Linked DNA regions of Homo sapiens. The protein of the gene in region 1 binds, or shares a complex with, the protein of each later gene. Each region holds a gene or a part of one and is shown on either strand. Other genes may lie near its edges. The genes, in order: AGK, TIMM29 and TIMM22. A codon is read from its position in the direction of its gene.

Region 1 (11,973 bases):
CCTACCAACTGAGCTTATAGTTAAGCCTGCTAAAGTTGGGAGGGAAGCAAGTCACCAGAGGCCCTAAGCAAAAGATTTTTTCTCATCAGGGACAATTCACCACAATTTTCAAGGGGAAATAAAGTTGCTGCTGTGCAATGAGGGCAGGAAGATGAATGCATGAAACCCAGAAGAACACACTGGACACCTCTTTATATTGCCATATCCAGTGGGAGTGTTAATGAAAGACGACTACATTTCCAACCAGGCAGGACCCAGAACTCAATCCTCCAGGAATGAAGATCAGATCGCCCTTACCCTCTGCAAAAACAAACCAAAACAAAAAGCCTAGCTTGAGACCAGGTGCAGTGGCTCACACCTGTAATCCCAGCACTTTGGGAGGCCAAGACGGGGGAATCACTTGAGGGAGGCCGAGGAGGCAGATCACTTGAGGCCAGGAGTTCGAGACTGGTCTGGCCAACATGGTGAAACCCTGTCTCTACTAAACAAACAAACAAGCAAACAAACCAAAAAGCCTAGCCAGCTGAGGGCTGGCCTGAGGTAAGGAGGTATGAAATGAATTACAGAGGGGCAAGTCAGAATCACAGCCACAGCCCAGCAGCAAGTGGCAGAACCAAGAACGGCAACCTCCACTCGTGTTTCCCTTTTGTAAGGTCACATGCATTTATATGTTTCCATTTAATTTCCTTTGCTTCCCTGTAAAATTTGCCTTTAATGTTCTGCAGTTTCAGTCTGATGTATCTGCTGGGTTTGTTTGTTTGTTTTGAGACAGAGTCTTGCTCTGTCACCCAGGCTGGAGTGCAGAGGCCTGATCTCAGCTTACTGCAACCTCTGCCTCCCAGGTTCAAGGGATTCTCCTGCCTCAGCCTCCTGAGTATTTGGGATCACAGGCACCTGCCACCACGCCCAGCTAATTTTTGTATTTTTTTAATAGTGATGGGGTTTCACCATGTTTGGCCAGGCTGGTCTCGAACTCCTGATCTTGAGTGATCTGCCTGCCTCAGCTTTCCAAAGTGCTGGGATTACAGGCATGAGCCACTGCACCCGGCCTGCTGTTATATTTTGAATACTGCCTCTTCCCATCTCTCTACTCTCTCATTCTGGAGCTCCTATTAGACATCTATTGGATTTCATTCTGTCTTCCAGAACCTTAACTCTTATTTATATTTTGCCTCTCTTTTTTCTCTTCTTGCTGTATTTGGTTAATATCCTCACATCTGTCTTCTAGTTCAATAATTTTCTCATCAGCTGTATTTAATCTCCTCTTTAACTTATCACTGAATTTTTAATTTTAGTAACTATGCATTTTAAAAATTTCTGGGTGTTATACTGAGTTCTTTTAAAAATTTGCTATTTTGTTTTTCTTTGTGCCTTGTATTCTTCTTAAGATTAAAATTTTTTTCTTTAGTAATGATTTTGATCATTTTGAACTATTTTATTTTAAACTATAATTCAATTATTTTAAGTTTGTGGGGCTCTAATTCTCCTATGGGTTTTTTTTCCCTCACTTACTCAAAGTAAATCATTTTTTCATGTATTTTGTGATTTTTTAAAATTGTGACATCTTTAGAAAGGTTTTTTAAAAAATAGGAAAATCCTTTTTGGCCTGGTATGGGAGCATTCCCCCAGAGGCCTTTGTGTTTGCTTCTGTCAGACACTCAAAGCTATTATCACTATGAGACTAATTTTTATATTAACTTTCCCAGTTTTGAGACTTCTGTACCACTGAGATAACGTGTATTCAAATCAGAAAACCCACCCTAGGCACAGATTTGGTGTTATCACTTATTTGGGGACTCTTTTTCCACCTAGAGCTCAGGCTGGGACACACCACTTCCTTGTCATCTTCCTATATTGGTGAGTAGATTTTTAAAAATTTTTTTCCCTAGTGATTGTAGTCAGAGGTTTTACTTCCAGCTCCCTGACTTTGGAGGACCCAAGTTCTCATGTCTTGTGCTGAGACATAGCTTCTAGATTGTTGAGCCGGAACCCTCAAGCCAGGCAATGACATCATCGGCTCATATATTTCTATTTTAGCTTTCAGGTCCCGCTTATTTTCTGGCCCCATGGGATGAAGCTTCCTTTACGGCAAGTTCAGTTATGCACTATGAATCCTCTTGTTATGTTTTAACCCGAATTTCTAGGTATTGGAATAGGTAGACTTTTCAGGTCTACTACCTTGCCAGAACCAAAATTCCAAAAAAGTCTTATAATGATGGTGTGTACCTGTTGTTCTCCAATGCCCTATACTTAGAGCAATTCGTAGTTTAAAAAATAAGAAAATTCAGAGTTTTTATTATATGGTAACTTATTAGGATGACACTACCATAATTACTATTTTGTTTGAAATTTGGTTTCCTAAAAAAAAAAAAAAAAAAAAAAAAAAAAATTAAAAAAAAAACTGCTGGTCTCTATGCTCCTGGAAATGAAAAAATGAATTACCAAAGTAAAAAACTTAACATTCATTCCAGGTAGAATTTCCCTTTTCTTCTTCCAGGGTACTTAGAATTTGGGTTACTCCTGAAAACCAAAATTTGCAAAACAATGTTGGAGACCTGGCTCAATACAATCAATGTGGGCCCTACCTTTGTTCCTACTCACTGCCATATTAAACAGGCAGCTGGGAAGTGCCGACCAGGGCCTAGCTGGAGTCAGGAGGAATAAGTGGCAAAGGATGACAAGAAGACACATTAACAAGAGAAGTCACATTCAGGAAAATGCAGGGCCCATATAGATCATGGGTGACAATGGGCAGCATAGAGGGTTCTTATAAAACCTCATGCAATAATGTGAAAACATATTCTCTCTCCTAGGAACCTGTTGGTTTCTTGAAAGGCCTCATTTACATGTTTCCAATCTGGTAGCAATAGATTCAGTGGATATTAAAGGTCATAATAAGGAAAGGATTTTAAGCATAAATACCACAAGAACACCATTTCATATTTTTTTCCTTAGGGGAAACAAAGTAGTCTAAAGAAGTATCTACATGCAAAAAATGAGCAAATAAACCAAGATAAGTCTTAAAAGAATTTGTACATAATTTTCCATGATCAAAGTACTCACCCTGGGAAGCATCTGTTCCCACAAGCAGGTTTCATTGGCGATGCTACATAGTAAGGTTACTAATGGTCATAAGGACACTATATCTTTTTTTGAACTTTTAACTCTATTTTAGTGTTAATGAATCTACAGAAAAAGAGCATAGCACTGGTCCAAGGTCCAGGGAAATGACTGGAGGATGATTTTAGGAAAAACCAAAGGTTAAGCATCCCATTGATGTCAACTTGCTTTCTTCTGTCATCGATTTTCACCCTTAAAACCTTGCCATAGGCCAGTGTTGTGGCTCACACCTGTAATCCCAGCACTTTGGGAGGCTGGGGCAGATGAATCACAAGGTCGGGAGTTCGAGAGCAGCCTGGCCAATATGGTGAAACCAGTCTCTACTAAAATACAAAAATTAGCTGGACTTGGTGGCCCATGCCTGTAGTCCCAGCTGCTCAGGAGGCTGAGGCAGGAGAATCACTTGAACCCGGGAGGTGGAGGTTGCAGTGAGCAGAGATCATGCCACTGCACTCCAGGCTGGGCGACAGAGCAAGACTCCATAAACAACAACAACAACAACAAAAATCACACAAAAAAACCTTGCCATCATTTTTTTTTTTCTTTTAAATCACTGTCCTCGTTGTGTTTCCTATCCACCAATATAGCCTATGGCTTGCAGTTTATCAAGTTGGGGCTCATGGCTCCAGGGAACAGAAAACCCTGACTCCCCCCTAAACAATAAGGGAATTTATTATTTCACATAATAGGATGTCCCAGAGTTTGGGCAAACTCCAGACATAGTACAACCATTTGGTTCCGTGATGTCATTGAGGACCTGGGCTCTTTATCTTTTTCCTCTGACATTCTCTGTGAGTTGGCTTTGCCCTAGGGCTGGCTCCCTTCATGGATGAAGAATGACTATAGCAGTTTCAGGCATTACATACACATATATGATCCTATAGGAGAAAAGTGCGACCATCTCTTTCTCTTTTTTAAAAAACAGCTTTATGGAGATATAATTCACATACCATACAATTTTCCTACTTAAACTTTATGTTTCACTGAGTTTTAGTAGATTCATAGTTGTCCTACAACCACCACCATCAATTTTAGAACATTTTCATCTCCCTAAAAATAAATCCCATACCCATTAGCAATCATTTCCCACTTCTCCCCAACCTCCCCCCAACTGCAGTCCTAGGCAACCTCTAATCCATGTTCCATTTTCATGCATCTGCCACTTCTGGTGGTTTCATGTAAGTGGAGTCATACACTATGTGGTCTTTTGTGACTGGCCTATTTCGCCTAGCCTAATTTTTTTTTTTTTTTTTTTTTTTTTTTGAGATGGAATCTCACTCTGTCACCCAGGCTGGAGTGCAGTGGCGTGACCTTGGCTTACTGCAGCCTCCGCCTCCCAGGTTCTGGTGATTCTCCTGCCTCAGCCTCCAGGTGGCTGGGATTACAGGCATGCACCCCTGTGCCCAGCTAATTTTTGTATTTTCAGTAGAAATGGGGTTTCACCATGTTGGCTAGGCTGGCCTTAAACTCCTGACCTCAGGTGATACTCCTGCCTTGGCCTCCCAAAGTGCTGGGATTACAGGTGTGAGCCACTGCACCCGGCCCACCTAGCCTAATGTTTTTAATGTTGATTGCCATTTCTTTCTTGAATTCTCCCTTTTAAGAAGGAAACCTTTCCTAGAGATCTCTCAGCAGACTTCCTTTTAAGACTGTTCTAAATCGAGTGACATGATCTATTCCTAATCTAATCATTGGAGATGGAAGAGGAATGACTGTGATTACCTAAAGTGACTGTAAACTAACCCTTGGCAAAGGGGATGGGGTTATCTAGTCACCTGCTTTGTAGTTACAGGCAAACAGGGGCTGGGAAGGTGAAGAGTGGATGTCTGAACAAAATTTAATTCCTGTTAGGAAAGAAGAAAGGGGCAATGGATGTTAGGTAAGGAGATAAAATGTACAATACACTTTAATGATACAACATAACAGTTACGAAAGAAGCTAAGAATGGTGAAGGGGGCTCCACTTACCTTTGGTTTATTTATTCCACCAGTCTTCCTTCCTTCCTTTTTGTTTTACACCTGTAAGCTTCAGACTCTAGAGTGGTGGGTTCACCAACCACTCCAAATCCTACCCCTGCAATGGATTTTATTATACCACCAGGTTGAGTGAAGCTGACCAACTTCAGGGGCTTCAGGGAGGTGGTAAAGGCAGGGAGGGGATAACTGAGAGGTGAGAGTCACACAGTGCCCACTTTCTAGGTAATCAATTGACAGCAATTCAGCATGCCATCATTGCTGTTCTAGCTGTATGTAGTTGATGTACACAACTGAGAGGGAGGTTGCAAGTATGAGAATTTTTTATACACATATAAAAAATTATATATCTCTATATATCTTGTCAATGAGCAAAAAATTGAAATGTGAGACTACCTTAAACCTTGATTCTTTCTCTCGTCTTATGTTCTTGAACACTCTTCCACAGTAGGGGGCAATCTGACTGGAGAGTGAAATACTCTTTCTTGTTGAATGACCATGGCACTCCTGTCTTAGTTTCTTCTCACCCTATTTCTAGGCCAAGGTCATTTCCCTGTAACATCCTTAATAACGGATTCTGAGCCCAGACCAGGCACGGTGGCTCATGCCTGTAATCCCAGCACTTTGGGAGGCTGAGACAGGCGGATCACCTGAGGTCAGGAATTCAACACCAGCCTGGCCAACATGGTGAAACCCCATCTCTACTAAAAATACAAAAATTAGCCAGGCGTGGTGGTAGGCTCCTGTAATCCCAGCTACTTGGGAGGCTGAGGCAGGAGAATTGGTTGAACCCAGGAGGTGGAGGTTGCAGTGAGCTGAGATCACGCCATTGCATTCAGGCCTGGGTGACAAGAGCGAAACTCTGTCTCAAAAAACAGACAAACAAAACCAAACAGATTCTGAGCCAAGAGAATGTTACCTCAGGATTGGTTCTGGACTAATGAGAAGCTACTGGGATGGTCAGCCACCATATTTGGAAAATGCTAGAGATCTTGAGTTGTAAGACTCTTCCATTCCTGGGAGCTACTAGATGTCAGTCAGTACATTCGTCCTCAAGGGAACATAAATTCATTTTGTAAGCAACTGGGGCCCATACTTTCAATGTGTCACTTATTTCAATATGCATAAAGTATAGTATTATATGTGGCAATGTGTTAGTTGTGAAAAGAGACACAAGTCCCTATCCTTGACAGTGCAAAATGTTCTTCTCTGACGATCCCAGGCAAGAGCTGAAGACCCAGGCAAATTCCAAATAGCTCCTTGGGAACCTCGCTCAGCTGTTAGTGATAGTGAACAAAGAACATGGAAAAGGAAGTACATAAGCCAAGCCCTTCTCTCTGGCTGTGTGCATTTGGATCTGTCTTTGGTCCTCTCTGTGGCATGAATGTGCCATTGAGCCTCAGGGACTGTGCCCGAGGCACTGTTCCAGGCCTCTAAGGGCCAGAGTGTCAGACCTGAGTCTTCTCTGGCATCGTAGATCCTTAACACGGATCAGCAAAGGAAGCTCTCCAGGACTCTCTTTGACTATGAGAGGGAACTTGTGTTAATCCTTGACTAAGAGTTTTGTTTTGTTTTGTTTTGTTTTTTGAGAGGTAGTTTTGCTCTTCTTGCCCAGGCTAGAGCGCAATGGCGCGATATCGGCTCACTGTAACCTCCGCCTCCCAGGTTCAAGCAATTCTCTTGTCTCAGCCTCCCATGTAGCTGGGATTACAGACACCTGCCACCACGCTTGGCTAATTTTTGTACTTTTAGTAGAGACAGTTTCACCATATTGGCCAGGCTGGTCTCAAACTCCTGACCTTAGGCAATCCACCCATCTTGGCCTCCCAAAGTGCTGGGATTACAGGCTTGAGCCACTGCGCCCAGCCTAACAGAAGTTCTTGGGGCTGCCTAAGTCAGAGTGTCAGGTTTCTGTTGGGCTGCAGGAACCCATTCAGGGCTGGCTAGAGCTTGTGCCTGATTATTCTGGAATCTGAATGCATCCTAGTAAAATGGTATTTGGAAGAGAGTAGAATTGGTATAGGTCTCCAAAACTCCAACCTACACATCTGCCTGCAGGTGTGTATTCAGATTCCCTTAATCTCCTATATTTCCATCCTTCTTCATCCTTCATCAAAGCTGACCTTTTCTTATTTGGGGAACCACTTTCATGCTGAAGCCCTAAAGCATACGCTGAGTCTGACCCTTGGAACATCAAAATCAAGTCTCAGATTTTTCTAGCCTGCAGGTGAGCAGTTCAGAAGCTTATTTCCAAACACAAACGCTTTAGATAGTTGGAAAAGAGGAACTGAAAATAATGGTCTTCCATACCCTATGACAACATTTTAGAGCTAGAAGGGTTTTTTTTTAATAGTAATGTTCTCAGTCCCCTAGTTTACAGATGGAGACTCAGGAGAGAGGGCTAGAAATTTCTTGCTACTAAACAGTGTGGCCCAATGGATTGGTGCACCCTGGCATAAGGAATATGTTTACTGCACCATAGCCTCATTGAAGGTCCCCGCCCCGGCCTTTTTTTTTTGAAGCATTCACCTAGGGAGACATAGGTAGGATGCATGTCTACACGTAGGAAATGTGCAGACTAGATAGCAAGCTCCATGGGGCAGGAACCATGAAGGGCCTTGTACCTGAGCATACCCCCAGTGCCTGATGCAGGGCCTAGTGCACACTCAAATGTTGGTTGACTGGCCGGGTGCGATGGCTCATGCCTATAATCGTAGCACTTTGGGAGGCCAAGGCGGGCAGATCGCTTGAGGTCAGGAGTTCGAGACCAGCCTGGCCAACGTGACAAAACCCCCGTCTTTACTAAAAATACAAAAAAATTTAGCTGGGCCTGGTGGCACACACCTGTAATCCCAGTTACTCGGGAGGCTGAGGCACAAGAATTGCTTGAACCCGGGAAGCAGAGGCTGCAGTGAGCTGAGATTGCACCACTGCACTAGCGCCTGAGCCACAGAGTGAGACCCTGTCTAAAAAAAAAAAAAAGTTGGCAGACTGAATGCTGGAAAGAAGAAGGACCTGGCTTTGTCCCCACACCAATCTGGTGGGCGAGTACAGAATGTAAACTGTCTGGAGGTTGGCATTGGCCTAGCTTCTCCGTTGCTCTCTTGTTCTCTAGAATCCAATCAAGCACCTGTGGCCAGAGAGCTGTGTGAAATGGAAACCAGTCCCACCAGCCCCTGATTGCACCCCCGCAATGTCTTCTCGCCCTGTTTAATGTCATGTCCAAACTCCTGGCCGCCGTGGCCTGTCTCCACCTCTCCAGCTTCCTCGCTTGGCCTGTCTCCTTAGCTCTCTCTGTCTCACCCACACTGGCCTGCAACTCGCCAGAGTGCCCCAGGCTTTTCAGCTTTTGCACGGGCCCTTCCCTCTCCAGGCTCTCTCCCCTGGATCTTTGCTTCAGCTGCTCCTTCTTGACATCCAGGTCTCAGACCAATGGCCCCTTACTCAGAAGGCCTAGCGCAGGCCGCCTAATTTCACACAGTTCTCCCCCTTCCCGCACTGCCTTCCATCACCTCGTTTCATTTTCTTCGTGGCACGGAGCACCATCTCCAATGGCCTTGTTCATTTAGTTAATTTATTTTCCGACTTAGTTCCAGGTGCTAAAACAGTGTTACCTTGGCAGGCTTCCCATCAAATATTGTTGCGCAAAGGATGGATGGATGAAAGGAAGAGTGAGCCAATAAACGAGGGAACGCCGGGAAAGGCAGCCTCAAGCCGGTGGGCCCTGCCACCCCCACCGTCCCTGAGCATCCGAGCCGGTTCCCGCCCCCGGCCCGAACTGGCCCGCGCGCGCTCGCAGCCCCGCGGCGGAACCCGAGGGCGGCGGCAGCGGTTTCCCTTGAACGAGCCGGGGAATCTGGAGGGAGCACACAGGAAAGGCAGAGCCGCGAGCTGGACCAGCCGTGGTGAGTGCAGCGGCGCCCAGGCGGGGAGCGCAGTGCGGGTCGCTGGGACTGAGCGCGCGAGCGGGGTGGGAGTCGGGATGGGGGCCCGGGGCGCTGGGCGGAGCCTCTGGAGTCGCGCTGGGCCGAGAGCCGCGGGGACCCAAGCATCAGGGGTCGTGGGTGCAGGCGGCGGCGCGGCTTGAGGGTAGGGGGTGCGGGCCTGGCCGGCGCGGCAGGGGAGGGCCTCGCGCGGATCCCGTGGTCACGGCGGGAGTCAGCTGTCCTGGGTTCGAGTCCCAGAGCTGTCGCTAACTTGTGGACCCCCCTCACTTCGTCCCTTGGGCTTCAGCATAGCCCTTTGCAAAATGGGGCCAATAGTATCAGATCCATTGATGGGTTGGTTGGTTCATTCATTCTGGCGCTTTACTAGGTTCTGGTGCTGCAGATGGATAGACGAACTTGCCCATGAGGGGTTCACTATCTAGTAAGAAAAACATTTCCACCTGGATACTCCACAGGCGTGTCAAATTCAGTATCTCCTAAACCGCACTACTTTTCTCCACAAACCTACCACTCAAATCTAAATGACTGAAATCACTATTCAACCAGTCACCCAAGCACAAAAACCTGGCTTGGTTCCTCCTCTCTCACTTACTACAGTCAATGGACCACCAACTGCTGCCAATTTCTACTTTCTAAAGCTTTCCAAATCCATCCTTTATCTTGGTTTGTTCTTTTAGGAGCCTACAGATTATGGCAATAACTTCCTAATGGTTCTCTTTAGCTTTAATTTTAGCTTCTTCCAGTTCATTTTTCATTCTGCTATAAAGTGGTCTTTTAACAGTTCAAATATGATTATATCACTCACCTGCTTAAAGCCCATTAAAGGTTTTTCATTGTCTTCAAAATAATAGCCAAAGTCCTTAGTGTGGGTTCAAGGTCTTTTCTAATCCCACCTGGTCTTCAATCCTTTATCTCTAAACCACTGTTTCTCAAAGTCTGGTATAGTGGTGACCTCCATTGCAACCAACATGGGAGTACTTGTTAACAAGTGAAGATGACAGCTTAATTCCAGAACAAATGAGACTCTTGCGGGAAGGGGCAGTTCCCAGGATTCTGTGTTTTTAACAAGTTCTGCACTAAAGGTTGAGAACCCCTGTTCTAGACACTCCAATTTTTACTCCGCTGTTGATGAGATTCAGGACACACTGCCGCAAAATATGACTCGTTGGCATTAGAGGAAACAACTGAAGCAGGAAAGTCACTTTGTGTCTTCCCACTTTTCTCCCCTGAAGCAGGCCATAAAAGAATTGTTTGACCTTCTTCTGTATAAGACCCTTCAGTGAGAGGTGCTCATCCTGTAAGTATAGGATCGAGGAAAGGAATGCCCTTATCTTTGAAGACACAGGTACACAGAGAAGAATCAGAACAAATAGGCCTTGCTAAATTCTCCCCAGCGTATTACTGTTAGATCATACCCCCTTTTTCCAGTCTCAGCCATGAACCTAATTCTCCCCTCAACTATCTACGTATGTTTCTCTCAACACACTTTACTGTCTTTTATGCCTTTGTACACTCTCAGTTTGGGCTACTGTAAAAAAAAAATAGCAAAAACTGGGTGGCTTAAACAACAGAAATTTAATTCTCACAGTTCCGGAGGCTGGAAGTCCAAAGTTAAGGTGCCAGCATGGTTGAGTGCATGGTGATAGCTCTCTTCCTCGGTTTGTAGAGATCTGTCTTCTTGCTGTATCCTCACAATGCAGAGAGACCATCTCTGTAGTGTCTAGTCTCATAAGGACACTAATCCCTTTCATGGGAGCCACTCTTATGACCCAATTATCTCCCGAAGGCTCTATCTCCTAATACCATCTCAATGGGGATAGGGCTTCCACATCACCATTTTTGGGGAACACAGCATTCAGACAATAGCATCCACAAAACTCCTTCGTTACTTTAGTGATTTCCTCCTCATTATTCAAGGCTCAGGGAAGACTTCATTGACTGTGCACCACCCCCTCAGCCCTAGACCAGGTTAGGTTCATTCTTGCAGACTCTCACAAAGCCTTGTGCTGACTCCTCGACATTTATCCCACTGTACTGCAATCATAATTGTATAATTGTGTTAGCATTGTGGGTTTGACAGTTGTGAGCACTTGAGAGAACGCATGAGACCCATTCTTCTCTGCCCTCACCCCCAGCACAGAGCCTACCATATAGGTGTTTATTAAAGGGCTCTTGAATGAAGGAGTGATTTAGGGCCAGATGGAGAGGAGTTCAAGAATTAGTTGGGCCTTTGGAATCATGTGTCAGCCTGACGGTGTATGGGATTCACAGGAAGATGGTCTCCCTGGCACTGGCTTCACTGCTGCTTTTGATAAGGATGTTTCTACCCTTGAGAGGAATTTTAACCAATGGGATTTAAAGGGAGTCATAAAAGAACTGGACTTTTAAGTGGAAACAGTTTTTTTTTTCTTGGTCTATATACCTCACTAACAGATAGTCATAAAAAAATTTTGCTTAAATTTTTGTTTATCTAGAAAATAAGTTCATTTTCAAAAACTTAGAAAGTACATTGCAATTTTAAAAATAAACATCACCCACCATTCCACAACCTAGAGGGATCTACTTTAAAATTTCGTTTTTGAGCCAGGTGCAGTGGCTCACGTCTGTAATCCCAGCAATTTGGATGGCCAAGGCGGGAGGATTGCTTGAGGCCAGGAGTTTGAGACCAGCCTGGGCAACATAGTGAGACCTTGTCTCTAACAAAAAAAGGAAAGAAAAAAATTAGCCAAGTGTAGTGGTATGTGCCTGTGGTCCCAGCTACTTGGGAGGCTGAGGCAGGAGATTTGTTTGGGCCCAGAAGTTATAGTGAGCTATGATTGTGCCACTGGACTCCATCCTAGGTGACAGAGTGAGACCCTGTCTAAAAAAAAAAAAAAAAAAATTGTTTTTGTTTAATTGTATTGGTTTTCTTTTTAAATTTATACTCATGTTTG
Region 2 (7,167 bases), on another chromosome or scaffold:
GAGGGTGAATACCAGCCCGGCGGCTGACAGGCCCAGGGCCAGCGCCCCAAAGAGCCACTGCAGCCAAGGCACAGGGATGAGCCACAGGACCTGGGAGCAACACGGCGGCAGGTGACCATGCCAGTCCCCCCAGCCACCACCCACTCTGCACCAGGCCACCCTCACCACCATGGGAATGAGGCGGCAGGTGACCATGCCAGTGTCCCCACACAGCCACCACCCACTCCGCGCCAGGCCACACTCACCACCATGGGGATGAAGACAAAGAGGGAGTAGCCGTAGATGCACACAGTCTCCAGGAAGGTGTAGGGCCCCATGCGCTCCTGGACACCCTTGCGCCACCGCAGGAAGCCCCACAGGGCCAGGGGCACCAGCCACGCATAGCAGTAGATGCTGATGCCTGCCACGGTCACTGGGGGGGGCAAGGTGAGCAGTCACCCCCTGTACCCCAGGGCCCTGCCAGGCATTGGGCCTGCCCGTCTGCTTACCCTTGTGGAACTGGGGGCTGTAGTGGATGGAGGGGTCCCTCCTCTGGGCCAGCACCAGCGTCAGGTTGCCAGTGACGGCCAGGACAAAGGCCAACGTGGCACAGATCCAGAAGGGGCCTGGGGGTAGGGGGCACAGTCAGGGTCCCGGGCCCTGCACTCCCAGGACAAGCAGACATGTATCCTGACTGAGCTGTGCTGAGACCCCAGCCTCTTCCTAAGCACCTTGCCTGACTCACCAGGACACCGGGGGCCTCCTGGTGGCTGAGCCCAGTGCTGGCTGTCAGTTCATCCCCCTCCCCGAAACACTCAGGACTGCACACCCTTGGCCTGTGTCTCACCTCATTGGTGCCAATTCCTCAACCCCTGTCACCTCCTCTTTGACTCTCTGACCCCTTCAGCCATGGGGAGCAGCCAGGCCCAGTTCTTGGCCCCTTCCATGTCTGCGTTCACCCATAGTATGACCTCCTTCAAGCCCAGGGCCTTATGCCTCCTCTAGAGCCCAGGGCTCTGCCCTGAGCACTGCAGGCTCCAGTTCAAGCTCCCGGGTGGGCATCTCCGGCTTCATCCACACCCTTGCCCTCTGCCCTCACTGCCAAGCTGGTCCCGTGGATACGTGGCAACTCTATCCATCCCGTTAGTCCAGGCAGAAATCCCTAGAGCCTGCCTCCGCTCCTAACCTCCCACTCCCCCCACCCCCACCTATCTAGCCACAAAGCCAGTCTCTTCTACTTCCCCAGCACGTTCCAGAATCCAGTGCCACTCTCCACATCCACAGTCCCCACCATGTGGCCGCCTCCACCCCAGCCTCCTGGCTTCCGCCCTCGCCACTCATGATGGCGAGAGGGACCCCGAAAACACTTAAAGATCCATTCTCGGCCAGATAACAGTGACTCACACCTGTAATTCCAGCACTTAGGAGGCCGAGGCGGGTGGATCACCTGAGGTCAGGAGTTTGAGACCAGCCTGGCTAACACGGTGAAACTCCGTCCCTAATAAAAATATAAAAATCAGCCGGGCATGGTGGCACGTGCCTGTAATCCCAGCCACTCAGGAGGCTGAAGCAGGAGAATCGCTTGAATGCGGGAGGGGAAGATTGCAGTGAGCTGAGATCACATCACTGCACTCCAGCCTGGGTGACAGAGTGAGACTCTGTCTCAAAAAAAAAAAAAAAAGATCTCTTCTTGCCACAGCATGGGAGGCTTGTGTGATCTGTCCCCTCGCCTGTGACCTCCCTGCAGCTCACTCGCTCCAGTGGTAATGCCGCCCTGCAGTTCATGCAAGTTCCTGCCATGAAGCTTACGTCGTTTCTGGAAGCCTCTTTTCCTAGGTCTCCCCCACCCCTCCTGTTGCCAACAAGGCTCATTCCCTCACCCTCCTCAGGGAGGCCTGCCCTGCTGCACCCTGCAGAACTGCAGGGCCACTCCTCCTGTCTGCTCTGCTGCTCTCTACCCGCCACCCTCTGCAGTCCTTCATGTCTCTGTCTCCCTGAACAGCAGGTAAGTCACACTGTCTGAGTGACTGATTTGTCCGCAGCTATACACTGGCATCTGCAACTCAGGCCACACTTGTTGAGTGATCCATCAAGGAACCAAATGCACAACCTCACTCACCATACAGATCCGGCCGATTCCGCAGATGGTGCCGCACAAAGTTGTGGCCAGGCCGGGGCAGCAGTGAGCCTTTGATCCGGTCCAGGACCTGGGGGCAAGGCCAAGGTCAAGGATGGAAGTCTGCCAGGAGCTTCTCCCTTGTCCTGAGAGGCTCCTTCCCTGCTGACCTCCACCCTTCTCTTTCCATGCCCCACCTGAAAGAACTCAGCCTTTCCCTCTCTTTTTTTTTTTTTTTTTTTTTGAGACAGAGTCTTGCTCTGTCGGCCAGGCTGGATGGAGTAGTGGCATGATCTCGGCTCACTGCAACCTCTGCCTCCCGAGCTCAAGCAATTCTCCTACCTCAGCCACCCGAGTAGCTGGGATTACAGGCGTGTGCCACCACGCCTGGCTAATAGTTGTATTTTTAATAGAGACGGGATTTCACCATGTTGGCCAGGCTGGTCTCGAACTCCTGACCTCAGGTAATCCACCCACCTCGGCCTCCCAAAGTACTGGGATTACAGGCGTGAGCCACCGTTCCCAGCCCCCTCTTTTTTTTCCCTCTTTTTTTTTTTGTTTTGAGACGGAGTCTCGCTCTGTCACCCAGGCTGGAGTGCAGTGGTGCCATCTCGGCTCACTGCAAGCTCCGCCTCCTGGGTTCACACCATTCTCCTGCCTCAGCCTCCCAAAGAGCAGGGACTACAGGCGCCCACCACCACCCCCGGCTAATTTTTTGTATTTTTAGTAGAGATGGGGTTTCACCGTGTTAGCCAGGATGGTCTCGATCTCCTGACCTCATGATCCTCCCACCTTGGCCTCCCAAAGTGCTGGGATTACAGGCGTGAGCCACCGCACCCGGCCTCAGCACCCCCTTTTTCTTTTTGAGACAGAGTCTCACTCTGTTCAGGCTGGAGTGCAGTGGCACGATCTTGGCTCACTACCACCTCCGCCTCCCAGGTTCAAGTGATTCTCGAGCCTCAGACTCCTGAGTAGCTGGGACTACAGGTGTGTGCCACCATGCCTGGCTAATTTTTGTATTTTTAGTAGAGATGGGGTTTCACCGCGTTGGCCAGGCTGGTCTCCAACTCCTGACCTCAAGTGATCCACCGCCTCGGCATCCCAAAGTGCTAGGATTACAGGCGCCGACCACTGCACTTGGCTAATTTTTCTATTTTATTTTATTTTTTATTTAATTTTATTTTATTTATCTTATTTTATTTTTGAGACAGAGTCTCATTCTTTTTGCCCAGGCTGGAGTGCACTGGCACGATCTTGGCTCACTGCAACCTCCGCCTGGCGGATTCAAGCGATTCTCCTGCCTCAGCCTCCAGAGTAGCTGGGATTACAGGCGCCCACCACAAAGCCCGGCTAATTTTGTTGTATTTTTAGTAGAGACGGGGTTTCACCATGTTTGGCCAGGCTGGTCTCAAACTCCTGACCTCAGGTGATCCACCCACCCAGGCCTCTCAAAGTGCTGGGATTACAGGCATGAGCCACCCCGCACCCGGCAGTTTTTGTATTTTTGGTAGAGACGGGGTTTCCCCATGTTAGCCAGGCTGGTCTTGAACTCCTCAGGTTATCTGCCCACCTCGGCCCCCTTAAGTGCTGGGATTACAGGCAGGAGCCACTGCGCCCAGTCCATCTTTGGTCTTCTGCATATGCTGTTCCCTGTGCCTGGAACATATACTCCTGCTTCCCTACCCTATTCCCCAGGGAAGCCTTCTGTCTCCTTTAGGTCTCAGCCAATTCCTCACCTCCCCCAGGAGGCCTTTCTCTAACCCACCAGATTGTGTGTGTCCCCTGTGTTCCCATAGTCCCGATCCATAACCAGTCCCACCATAACCCTTTGAGAGCACCACAGTTCGTTCACCAGCACCCACCATCACCAGCACCCTGCCCAGGGGAAGAGTGGCTGAACCCTGAGCATAACTCTGAGCCCCATCCCACCTGCCTCCCCAGCCTGACCTGTGAGGTGTCCACGTCAAAGAAGCTCTGATAGTAGCTGAAGGTCCAGAATCCCGGCTGCTGCTGCTGCTGCTGCTCCTGCAGGAGCTGCACATTGCGGGCATTCAGTGCCTGCCCGGAGAGCCTGGGTCAGCTGGGGGCTGCAAGGAGGCAGGACACAGGGACTCACCGCGGCCTTGTCACTCTCCTCCTCCACCTCATCCTCGGCTCCATAGCTGCCACCTGAGCCCACGGCCACAGCCACGTGCCCTTGTGGGGTCAGCTGATCGCTTCTGCTGGTGGTGGCTGCATCTGGGGTGTCAGCCAGAAGATTAGTGGCCTCCTCGAATTCTGTGGAGGAGGTATATGGGACACACGCACGTTTGAGGGGTGGAAAGAACTCGACTGGGCCCAAGCTAAACCGATGCTCATCTGGGGGCGGAGGCTCTGCTGAGCCATTGATCTCCCCCAAGGTGGGGCCCAACTTCCTCAGTTTGGAGGCATCCGGAGGACATCTGTTCCCTTCCTCCTAAAGTGGAACTGCAACTTAGGGTTGACGCTGGGATGGGGTCAGGGTCTGGGGACGAGAGGCTCGGGTTTGAGGTCTGAGTTCAGGGCGGGGGCGGGGTTCGAGTCAGAGATGGGTCTCACTCCTGGGTCAGGGTTCACAGCCGCCTAGGCTTCGGGGTAGAGAAATTGGAAGCCGTATCGGGGGGAGGTTCTGGCCCGGGGCGGGAGTGGGAGATCCGGCCACGTCGGGGCCGCACTCACCATGGAAGGTCAGCTCGTCGGCCGATGCCATGGTCGTTCAGGGGCGTCTCCGCATCCCTCGCTGAGGACAGAGACCGGTCAGGCACACTTCCCCCCCGCCCCCGAGCCGGTCCCTCGGCCCCCAGCCCTACCTGGCGACCAACTGCACCCACGGAGGCTTGAACTCGTCGTCCCGTCCCCACAGGTGCGCTCCGCCCCCCCTCACCTGAGGCCACCTGGGCCGGCGTGGCTGGGGCTCTCTGCGCCTGCGCGTCTCGCCTACCCGTCAGACTCCAACCGACTCAGACCTGACAGCAACATCCGGCGCCTGTCCTCTTTCTATCCTCTCCCGTTGGGAAGCCACTTCCGGTAAAGTTGGCGCTTGCGCAGAAGAGACTCCCGGGCTCTTAACGTCGGGTATCAGGAGTTTCTTCCCGGAGCAAGGACCCCCAAGACGGAAGAGGATGGCCGCGGCGGCTCTGAGGAGATTTTGGTCCCGGCGCCGCGCAGAGGCGGGCGACGCGGTAGTGGCGAAGCCGGGAGTGTGGGCGCGGCTGGGTGAGTAGCGGCGGAAGGCGGCAGGGTGGGTGGCCGCCGCGACAGGGTGGGTGGCCGCCGCGGCCGGATCACTCTTACCGCGCTCCTCTCCCCTCAGGGTCCTGGGCCCGCGCGCTGCTCCGGGACTACGCCGAGGCCTGCAGGGACGCTTCGGCGGAGGCTAGGGCCCGGCCGGGGCGCGCCGCTGTGTATGTGGGTCTGCTGGGCGGCGCGGCGGCCTGCTTCACGCTGGCGCCCAGCGAGGGTGCCTTCGAGGAGGCGCTGCTGGAGGCGTCGGGGACCCTCCTGCTGCTGGCGCCGGCCACCCGCAACCGCGAGTCCGAAGCCTTCGTGCAGAGGCTGCTCTGGCTGCGGGGCCGTGGCCGCCTGCGCTACGTCAACCTGGGGCTCTGCTCGCTGGTGTACGAGGCGCCCTTCGACGCCCAGGCCAGCCTCTACCAGGCGCGTTGCCGCTACCTGCAGCCCCGCTGGACCGACTTCCCCGGCCGGGTCCTGGACGTGGGCTTCGTGGGTCGCTGGTGGGTGCTGGGGGCCTGGATGCGCGACTGCGACATCAACGACGACGAATTCCTGCACCTGCCGGCGCATTTGCGGGTGGTCGGGCCCCAGCAGCTGCATTCCGAGACCAACGAGCGGCTCTTCGATGAGAAGTACAAGCCTGTCGTGCTCACCGACGATCAGGTGGACCAGGCGCTGTGGGAGGAGCAGGTCTTGCAGAAGGAGAAGAAGGACAGGCTCGCCCTGAGCCAGGCCCACTCGCTGGTGCAGGCGGAGGCCCCGAGATGAAACCCTGAGGCCCCCGAGTCCTGGCAAACTGCTTGCCTGGGGTGGTGCAGTTCTGAGTGTGCCTCACCTGCAGAACAGCTGAGACAGATGATGTGCAAAGTGTTTTCTCACTGGATTTGCACAAGTTTGGGGAGCCTTTCTGCCCCCCGTCTTTGTTCTTTATTAGCTGAAGCTAATTCAGAGCCACCTGGGTCCGGGAGTTGGGGACAGCAGAACGACTTGACACATGTTCATCACTGGCAGAGCTGGTCATGAGCCTTTTATATAAGCCTTTTTCATCGGGCCTCAGAGGCCCTCCTTAAGGAGGTACCACATTGGTCAGCTGACTTGCAAACTCTTCTAAGGCCACTTAGATTTTCTTTTTCAAGTTTGGGTTGTGGCCTGGCATGGTGATGTCTGTAATCCCAGCAGTTTGCAAACTGAGGCAAGAGAATCGCTTGAGGCCAGGAGTTTGAGGCCAGCTAGAGTGACATAGCAAGACTCCGATGCTACAAAAAAGAATAATAATAGTAATTAACTAAATAAAATTTGAGCTGAAATGTTTTTATTCTATGACCTATTCTCTCTCGTTTTTTTTTTTTTTTTTTTTGAGACAGGGTCTTGCTCTGTTTTGCCTGCTGGAGTGCAGTGGTGCAATCTCGGCTCACTGCAACCTCTGCCTCCCAGGTTCAAGTGATTCTCCTGCCTCAGCCTCCTCAGTAGCTGGGATTACAGGCCTGTGCCAACATGCCTGGCAAATTGTTGTATTTTTAATAGAGATGGGGTTTCACCATATTGGCCAGGCTGGTCTTGAACTCCTGACCTCAGGTGATCCACCTGCCTCGCATTTCCAAAGTGCTGGGATTATAGGAGTGAACCACCACACCTGGCCTTTCATTTTGATAAGTAACATTTTTGCCATTCCCAGCTCTTTGGAAGGCTGAGGTAGGAGGATTGCTTGAGATCAGGAGTTCAAGACCAGTTTAGGTAAAATAGTGAGAGCTTTCTCAAAAACTAAAATATTTGGAAGGGTAAAGCAGGCAAATCATTTGAGCTTAGGAGTTCAACACCAG
Region 3 (8,846 bases), on another chromosome or scaffold:
TGATAGAAACACCATGTAACCACATGCTGCTGTACGTCTTCCCAATTCTGACTGATGACCTCGCTTGGTAGTTTGAAATCAGCCATGATGGGGATATTAACACCACACAAGTCAGCAAATGCTGTCAGTTAGGATTTTTTTTTTTTTTTTTTTTTTTTTGAGACGGAGTCTTGCTCTTGTCGCCCAGGCTGGAGTGCGATGGTGCGATCTTGGCTCACTGCAACCTCCACCTCCCGGGTTTAAGAGATTCTCCTGTCTCAGCCTCCCGAGTAACTGAGATTACAGGCGCCTGCCGCCACCTGGCTAATTTTTATATTTTTAGTAGAGACGGGGTTTCCTGCTTCAGCCTCCTAAGTAGCTGAGAATACAGGCGTGCACCACCATGCCCAGCTAATTTTTTTATTTTTTATTTTTTTAATTTTTAGTAGAGATGGGGTTTCACCATGTTTGTCAGACTGGTCTCGAACTCCTGACCTCGTGATCCACCGGCCTCGGCCTCCCACAGTGCTGGATGACAGGCGTGAGCCCCCGCGCCCGGTCCGTGCATTTACAGCACAAGTTCACGCTTATCTACAAAGCATCCACCTCTCACCGCACCTTCCGGGACCACGGGATTTAACGCCTCACCGCCCGATGACAGCACGAGGTGGAAAGGGCAGCGACAATGCTCGCGCGTCCCCTCCCGGCGATCCGGAGCACGGCAGCCCCGGAGCGCGCGGCCACTCCTCGCTCCCCTCAGGAGCTCGTAAGAGCCCCGCGCGGGGCCGAGGCGCGAGAGCACGCGCAACGCTTCCTGGGAAATGTAGTTGGGTGTCGGATTAGAACTACAAATCCCGGTACTCACCGCGCTGCAGCCCCGACCGTGAGGGCGCTTTCTGGTGAATCTGAATCTCGTTTGTCTGTGACATGGGGAAAGCTGTCCAAGCCCAATTCCATTTTCACAAGAGGCTTTCTTTTTGGAAACATGATAGCGGTCTCGCTGGTGTGCGCACCAGGAGCGTTGCGGCCGCGGCTTCCTCCTGCGGCGAATCTGCCGTTGCATCACAGTGGCTAGTCTCAGGGCCCGCAACGTGACGCTTGTCGAATCTGCTGCGGGGAGAAGGACGCGAGGGTTGCTTGGGCAGCGACTGTCATGGCGGCGGCCGCCCCCAATGCCGGAGGCTCGGCCCCTGAGACAGCGGGTTCCGCCGAAGCTCCGCTGCAGTACAGCCTGCTCCTGCAGTACCTGGTGGGTGACAAGCGTCAGCCCCGGCTCCTGGAGCCTGGGAGCCTGGGCGGGATCCCAAGTCCAGCCAAGAGTGAGGAGCAGAAGATGATCGAGAAGGCGATGGAAAGCTGCGCTTTCAAGGCTGCGCTGGCCTGCGTGGGAGGTGAGGCCGGGCGATGGGACCCTTGGGAGGCTGAGGGCCTGGACGGCAGTGGGGATCTCTGCCGAGAAGACCACGCGCCTGGGAGGCGAGGGACTGCGGGCCTTGACCTTGACCACACCCTCGCCTCGTTCGTGAATCGGGCGTCACCTCTCCTGCCCCCTCAGGCCGGCTTTCCTGATGAAAATTGGGTTAGAGAATCGGTGCTGTGGTTGGGGCCTGAAAGTTATTACATGACATCCTGGCTAACACGGTGAAACCCCGTCTCTACTAAAAATACAAAAAATTAGCTGGACGTGGTGGTGGGCGCCTGTAGTCCCAGCTATTCGGGAGGTTGAGGCAGGAGAATCGCTTGAACCCAGGAGGCGGAGCTTGCAGTGAGCCGAGATGTGCCACTGCTCTCCAGCCTGGGCGACAGAGCGAGACTCCGTCTCAAAAACAACAACAAAAAGTTATTACGTGGGTGACTTCATTCATCCGTTCATTCCCTTAAATTCATTCTCTTAAATAATTCTTTCAACAAATTGTTCCTAAGCAATATCACGTGCCAGGTGAAAGAGACAAGAGCCTGGTCTTCATGGGGCCTGTATTATACTATGTGGAGAAGAATGTTGAGCAGGAACACTGCAGAGGAAGGATGCAGACATATGGAAATGCACATGCAGACGACTCTAGGGCAGCAGTTGTTTGAGGTTTGAAAAACTGAAAGACCATTGTGACTAGACAGCCCCGAGCAAGGAGAGACGAAGTCTGCACTTGTCCTTCTGTTTTTCCCTTAAGTTGAAGGGGAGGTGCCCATGATTTTATTAAACTCATATTGACCATGAGGTCATGAGAGGGCATCCATCTGGACATGTCCAGCCGGCTCAGGAAGGACAGATGTGGCAGCAGTGTGGGATTTGCCATTAGGTAGCTGTGTGGCCTTGGGAGAAGTTGCTTAACCTCTCTGAGCCTCAGTTTATAGAAAGGAGAGGCTAATAGCATCTGTCTCACTGGATTATTGTGAAGAATGAATGAGGCTGTGGCATACTGGCATGTGCTCAGTAAAGCATTACTGTGAATGTCACAGTGGCCAAGAGAGTGATTTGCAAAGTTGATAGCTGAAGTTGAGGGTGGCTGGTTTACATATGAGAGAATGTAGAGAGAATAGAGGGTTAAAGATGGAATCTTGAGAAATGTTAGGGAATGACAGGAGGAAGAAATCTTAGAGACGGAGAAGATGATGTCAGTAACATAGACCCTGGATTGCAAGTCTCCAGGCAAGTGGAGAGTTTGAGTGGCAAGAGGGGGGTGTCCTCTGCACCGGTGGTCATCCAAAAGCATGGTCCCTTCCAGGATGATCCCAATAGAGTAATGCAGAAAACATGCCAAAGACACCTTCATCTCTGTGTTTGCTTCTAGGATTTGTCTTAGGAGGTGCATTTGGGGTGTTTACCGCTGGCATCGATACCAACGTGGGCTTTGACCCTAAGGATCCTTACCGTACACCGACTGCAAAAGAAGTGCTGAAAGACATGGGGCAGAGAGGAATGTCCTATGCCAAAAATTTCGCCATTGTGGGAGCCATGTTTTCTTGTACTGAGTGTTTGATAGAATCTGTAAGTGTCTCTGCCTTCTAAGAAATCCTTGCTGGGGCCACCATTTCATTACTTTTAAAGAGAAATTGCTCTTTAAAAGTCATTTGAAAGTTGTTACTAGAAAGCAAATCAGAAGCATCAGATACATTCTAGGTTGAACTTCCATAAAATAGTCCCTGTGGCAGACTTTGTGTGTGTTTACAGTATGGGCTTGCATTATTTTTTACTTTTTGTAGGCTAGAAGTTAGCTAATGATTTTAAACGAGACTTATTGGAGAGCCCCTTGAAGAAATTTTGATTACATTCCAAATGCTGGGCTTGGTTTCAGCACTCTGGTGCCACCTGCAGGAAGCATCTATGAACGCATACTATATATATATATATATATATATATATATATATATACACGCTGTATACTTAGGAACTATATTTTCAAGAAAGATTAGGTTTCCTTTGGGTAGGGACTGAATGAGCTAACGAGCAACCCTGTGTATTCCTCCTTAATGGTCTGCCTTGGCTTGTTTCTTTGGCTCTAACGTGTACTTCCCTGCCCACAGTACCGGGGAACATCAGACTGGAAGAACAGTGTCATCAGTGGCTGCATCACGGGAGGAGCTATTGGTTTCAGAGGTTAGTAAACGGCTCTCGAATGCTTTTTCTTTGTGGCCTTGGACAACGTGCTGAGGTTGTCATTTCCAAACACACGAGTGTTCCAGGGACACTTGATCTTCTTCCCTCTGACAAATAAATCATGTTTGTTTCTGTGGTAACTCGGTTTTGGAAACTTGTAGGATCTAGATGAGGGTTTCCCATCGTTGGCACTACTGACATTTCGACCAGACGAATCTTTGTCGGGATTGGGTCTGTTTTGTGCATTCTAAGACGTTGAGCAGTATCCCTGGCCTCTACCCACGAGATGCAAGTAGCACCCCCGTCCGTTGTAACAACTTTTTTTTTTTTAAAGAGACCGAATCTCACTCTGTCGCCCAGGCTGGAGTGCAGTGGCACGATGTCAGCTCACTGCAACCTCCACCTCCTGGGTTCAAGCGATTCCCCTGCCTCAGCTTCCCAGGTAGCTGGGATTACAGGCACCCGCCACCATGCTCAGCTAATTTTTATTTTTTTAGTAGAGATCAATTTCACCTGGTCTCGAACTCCTGACCTCGTGATCTGCCTGCCTCAGCCTCCCAAAGTGCTGGGATTACAGGCATGAGCCACCACGTGTGGCCAACATTTTTCTCAGTAATTCTAGACAATTGTCTTTTAATTTTAGATATAAATTATAATGGTAATATCTTTCTGCCCTTGGGGATTCTGATTTCTACCCATTGAATGCTAAGTACAGATATTCTAGAAATATTAGATTATCAGCTGCAAAAAAAAAAAAAAAAAGAAAACCAATTTGCTGCCTCTTCTCCCCGTTGGCATGTCCATTCAGAGCGTGGTGGAGGGCCTTGGTGACTTGACTTTCCTAGAAGCAGCAGTGTTTTATCACTGGGCCACTTTCCATCTGTCATGCCCTAACTTACCCAGAGCAAAAAGCCAGTTTTCTCATCTTCTGAGAGACAGGATGATTTGCTGTCATGAAACCTGGTTTTGCTCCTCAAGCACCATTTATGATGACGGACTGACTTCTCCGCCGGTCGTCCCATTGTTCAGCTTCACCAGGGCCTCTTTGAGAAGCTCTGCTGTCTCCAGTACTGCTTTGATCACCTTCCCAGGAATGTATTCCATAAACAAATCAGGGTCAAGGCCATATGCTTTCATTTGATTCCGAGGGCTGCTTCTCTCAACCAGTTTCCTGCCTGCGAGGGGCTATTTCCCTAAGACTAGAAATACCCTTTGAAGGAGAAAAGCTAAACAAATGTAGTTAGATAAAGCGCACTGGATTAGATCATATACACTGCTTCATTGATGTCTTCCAGAGCTATGATCGTTTGAATGACTTACAGTGCTTAAGCTCATTTCATGACACTGAGGGTGTGCCAACTTTCCGTGAGTGCCTCGTGACCCAGCAGCTGTCACCACAGGTCATGTTCTTTCTGTTTGTTTGACAGCTGGCTTAAAGGCTGGGGCCATTGGTTGTGGAGGTTTTGCTGCTTTCTCTGCTGCGATTGATTATTACCTCCGGTGAGAGTAATTGCCTGCAGGGAAGGATGATGCCAGCCCCGGATCCGGGCTGCTCTCTGGAGGACAGTTTCTGTACCACACCAGGGCCTTGCTTCAGGGCCTGAAGACATTCATTTTCCCTCATGTCGTTGGTATTCTGAGGGAGCTGCCTGGCTTCTCTGCCTCCAGCCTTTGGGGTAGCCACACTTTGCTGCTCCTGGACTCCAGCCAGCCTTCACAGAGGACGTCCCGTGCCAGATTCTCTCACAGCAGATCGGGAGACAGGATGTTGACATATAGGAATTCAGCTCCACAAAGCTTCAGGCCTGACCACAGCTGGCCCTCTAGGTTGTTTGGTGTTGTGGGCACAGAGGTGACAGTGTCTCTGCAGGCACTCAGGAAGCTGTTCTACCTTGGAACTCCATGCAACTATCCGTCTCGAATACCAGGGCAGGGCAAGGCGGACTGATGCCGTCCAACCAATTATCTCACTTGTTTTGTGTTCTGTCATCCTTGTTTTTTTTTTAAAAATACACTCCCCTCCCCCACCGCCACACACCTTACAGTTCAAAAGGTTGGTTTATTTGTATTTTATTTTCAAATTCCCTATTCCAAAAATAGTGCCGGGTGGCCCAAAGATAACATCTGAAGGGAAAGAATGAGAAAGCTCCCAGGGAAGCGGGGGATGGGGCGCTGAGGCAGGGTTGTTAGAGGACTGTGTCATCCTCACCAAGCTCATTACATCTGCCAGGGCCTGCCTCAAGAAGCCCAGCCCAGCCTTTTCCTGGGATGCAGTGAAATCCCATCCATGAACTCGATGGGCCCCTCCTGTGCCGGCCGAGAGGCACACACTGCCTTCACGACGTGACTGCTGGACCTGGCCGAGCTTGAGGCCACATGTGAAGGGTCCTGCTGTGGTCATCTTGGTGACTCGGTCACAGCAGCTACTGGCCAAGATCAGACGTCGCTGAGGGGCTGTTCACCACCATCCTCGTTCTCCAGGGTCAAGGAAGTGTTTTAACATGTCGTGTTTTCGACTTGACCTTGTGGTATTTTTCTTGGCCTAGTTGTGTGCCATGGATATTAAAAAAAAAAAAAAAAAAATCCGTCTACAGTTGGGCTTCAGCACTGGTGCTGCTTTACCCTGGTGCTCTGTGGGGGGATGACACTGCTGGAGTCAGGCCTTTGCTCTTGGGTGGGGCACAGGCAGGTCGCTTGGTGGGGGCCACACAGTGCTGGGCACCTTCAGCCAGTGGTGATGAGTCTCCTTTTTCCTATAATACGGTAATTCCTCTATCCTTTCCTTTTTTGCCTTCTTCCTCATCTGCCCTGTCTTCTGGCCCACACACTCTTAACCAGCGTTCACACTCAGTGTACATGGCCTGGAGGCCCGAGTGTTTGTACATGAGTGATGATGTCAAACCCAGCTGGTAACACCTTCCTTGGGTCATGTTTGCCATTTTCTTGGAATGAATGTGAGTTCCTGCTCAGGGCTCATGTCCTTTTACAGTGAATTCTATATAACGCCCCTCCCAGTCTCACAGCTAGGAGGCTTCATCACTGCTAGGCCAGTTGGAGCGTTCCCTAGAGCTCAGAACAAATTGTTTCCTCTGCTGTCCCTAAATATAGGACACCTACAAGCACTCTGAAGCAAGGGCAGACATTCCCACCTGGTACCTGTCAAAGTCCTAGGATGCCTGGGATCTTCCATCTTTCAGTCTAGCACGTGGGACCAAATACAAGAGATGCTGCCCTCACAACAGCCTTGGAAAAGATGAGCGCCAGGGCTGTCAGTACCCATCGGTTCAGTAAGCGAGGCATTGTCCACGCTGCCTATTCACTCGAGAGATGAATAGTTTCCTGTTTTCGATGGCTGGGGAGCCAGTATGAGCTCATAAACCAAACAGCAATTTTCAGAGACATCTGTTCCTGATCTTCAGAATAAACTCAGTGTCCAGTTGCTTCGGCTGGTGGGAGCCAATATTCACGCCACTGACTCTCTCAAAGGGAGGGTGGGCCCTCGGAGACCCAGCTTCTCTGACAAGCAGATTAGACCAAAAGGCTGCCTCAAAGATATGCCACTTTGAAGGAAAGCGTAGAGAAGCGTTTACATAAAAGAAGACGCTTCCTGTTCAGTGGACAACTTCATGCCACTTTCAAGGCACACCGATGGCCAGGTGGGACATTTGTACTGTAGCAGCACATGGCAAAGGTGAGCCAGAAGCAGCCTGGATGCTGGCTGATCCGGAGGCCTTTGTGAAGAGCAAGGAGAGGGCTCCAGCCCACCTCCCCGCAGCTCTGCCCCAGCCCCCGTGGGCCACAGGGAGGCTCAAGGGGAGTGAACTAGGTAAACAGATTCCTGGAAACTCACATCTGGATGCAGCTGGAAGAGTTAAATATTTACATTGGTGGCTTCCCTGGACCACCGCGAACACAAACATCCACACCACAGGGCTGAGTTTTGTGCAAATGATGGGGCTTTGCATTTTTTATTAACATTTTCCTCTCACGTGGTTTACATCAATTTATAATAATCTACATAAGTTGAAACAGAACATAGACAAAAAAATATATCCTTACCAACTTATTAAAGTCAGATATTCATGAAGGGTCCCATCCTACCTGTGTATCAGCAGAAACTGGCAGCCATCAGCCATTGCCCAGCAAGAACAGGCAGACCTGGCGTTTCTTAGCCTGACTCCTGCTGGGCACAGCCCACCCTGCTGGGCACAGTGACTGGAGGTTCCAGGCTGCACAGTCCCTGGCTCCTGACTCCTGCCGGGCGCAGTGACTGGAGGTTTCGGGCTGCATGGTCCCCGGCTCACAGGAGACCCTGCTGGGTGTTTCCTTGGTGCAGTTTAGTCCAGGTCTGGCACCTGACCCTCCCCACTCTGGGGGTGGGATTTATAAATATGAGCCTTTGCATTTCTCAGCCTTTGCAGCCTTCCCATAGCCTGTTCTCACGTTGCCTCAGCGAGCTTGGGGCTGTGGGGCTCCCTGAGGCTGAGACGCGAAGGTGCCCAGTCTGGGCCGTGACTCACTCTGCCCCTTCCTGTCCATCACTTTGGAAGCAAGCAGGAGCCTTCTGTGCCACACACCGACACTCGGATGCCAGGCAGGGACCTTAGGAAGGGCCAGGCACTGCATCTTTAGACTCAAGTTCACCGCCTTTCCCAGGGAGCAAGGGCTCCTTGCTAAGCTGCTCACAGGCAGCCGATGGTCAGTACTTCCTTCCTCTTGGGCATGTCTTTCCTCCGTGCACAGAGTATTTACTGTTCTGCCCAAGGCCACAGGAGTAAACAGGCTCAAAAAGGGCCTCTCACCGCGCACGCGCTGCAGCGTTAGGGCCGGCAAACCCTTCTTTAAGACTCAGCCCTGAGCACAAGCAATGGGAACTGAGCTCCCCAGCCCTGAGGGCCCGGAAACGACGCTCTGCCACACAGAAGAGCCGGGGAGCTGTAACTGGCTATAAGTCGAGCCCCTGGAGCTGCATCTGCTCTCCTAGGCTGATGGCCCGAGGCTGGCAGCCGCAGCTCGTGTGGGAAGTGTACGGTGGGAACACACCTCACTCCTTCCTAGTACCGGGCAATGCGTCTGCAAGTCGGGTCCCTGCTCCCTGGCGGGTGCCTACAGCACCAACAAGGAGGCCCCAGCAGAACCCAGCCCCTAGAGGCGGCTGTCTGATTCCCCACTCTCCCCACAACTTCTGGAGTTCCCAGTGTTTACCCAAAAGGCTGTATCCAGAAGCTGGGGCGGCACCACAATGGCTGGCCACCGTGGGCCTGTGCCTTTG

The links.
Region 2: the proteins of AGK (region 1) and TIMM29 are in contact, whole or in part, in a cryo-EM structure (PDB 7CGP), measured with the Homo sapiens proteins. Residues at the interface, in NP_060708.1 of Homo sapiens: His33, Asn36, Arg39, Arg40, Cys43, Gln44, Gln47, Asn51, Lys82, Pro86, His89, Leu90; in NP_612367.1 of Homo sapiens: Tyr145 (codon at 5,765), Gln146 (codon at 5,768), Cys149 (codon at 5,777), Arg150 (codon at 5,780), Tyr151 (codon at 5,783), Leu152 (codon at 5,786), Gln153 (codon at 5,789), Arg155 (codon at 5,795).
Region 3: AGK (region 1) and TIMM22 share a complex: the UniProt entries of both Homo sapiens proteins name them as parts of the TIM22 complex.

What each region holds. Positions count from the first base shown.
Region 1 is NC_000007.14:141,542,437-141,554,409, forward strand, and holds the start of AGK (acylglycerol kinase, mitochondrial isoform 1 precursor), read left to right. Parts: upstream 1-8,973; 5' UTR 8,974-8,998; exon of another isoform or gene 8,999-9,182; intron 9,183-9,247; exon of another isoform or gene 9,248-11,973. UniProt on the Homo sapiens protein: Lipid kinase that can phosphorylate both monoacylglycerol and diacylglycerol to form lysophosphatidic acid (LPA) and phosphatidic acid (PA), respectively. Does not phosphorylate sphingosine. Phosphorylates ceramide.
Region 2 is NC_000019.10:10,923,588-10,930,754, forward strand, and holds TIMM29 (mitochondrial import inner membrane translocase subunit Tim29), read left to right. Parts: upstream 1-5,223; 5' UTR 5,224-5,235; coding exon 5,236-5,329; intron 5,330-5,426; coding exon 5,427-6,115; 3' UTR 6,116-6,667; downstream 6,668-7,167. Other genes in the region: protein YIPF2, read right to left, coding at 1-90, 246-412, 489-605, 2,099-2,186, 4,043-4,129, 4,212-4,372, 4,793-4,823. UniProt on the Homo sapiens protein: Component of the TIM22 complex, a complex that mediates the import and insertion of multi-pass transmembrane proteins into the mitochondrial inner membrane.
Region 3 is NC_000017.11:996,011-1,004,856, forward strand, and holds TIMM22 (mitochondrial import inner membrane translocase subunit Tim22), read left to right. Parts: upstream 1-1,118; 5' UTR 1,119-1,132; coding exon 1,133-1,370; intron 1,371-2,768; coding exon 2,769-2,965; intron 2,966-3,501; coding exon 3,502-3,574; intron 3,575-5,001; coding exon 5,002-5,078; 3' UTR 5,079-7,661; downstream 7,662-8,846. UniProt on the Homo sapiens protein: Essential core component of the TIM22 complex, a complex that mediates the import and insertion of multi-pass transmembrane proteins into the mitochondrial inner membrane. In the TIM22 complex, it constitutes the voltage-activated and signal-gated channel.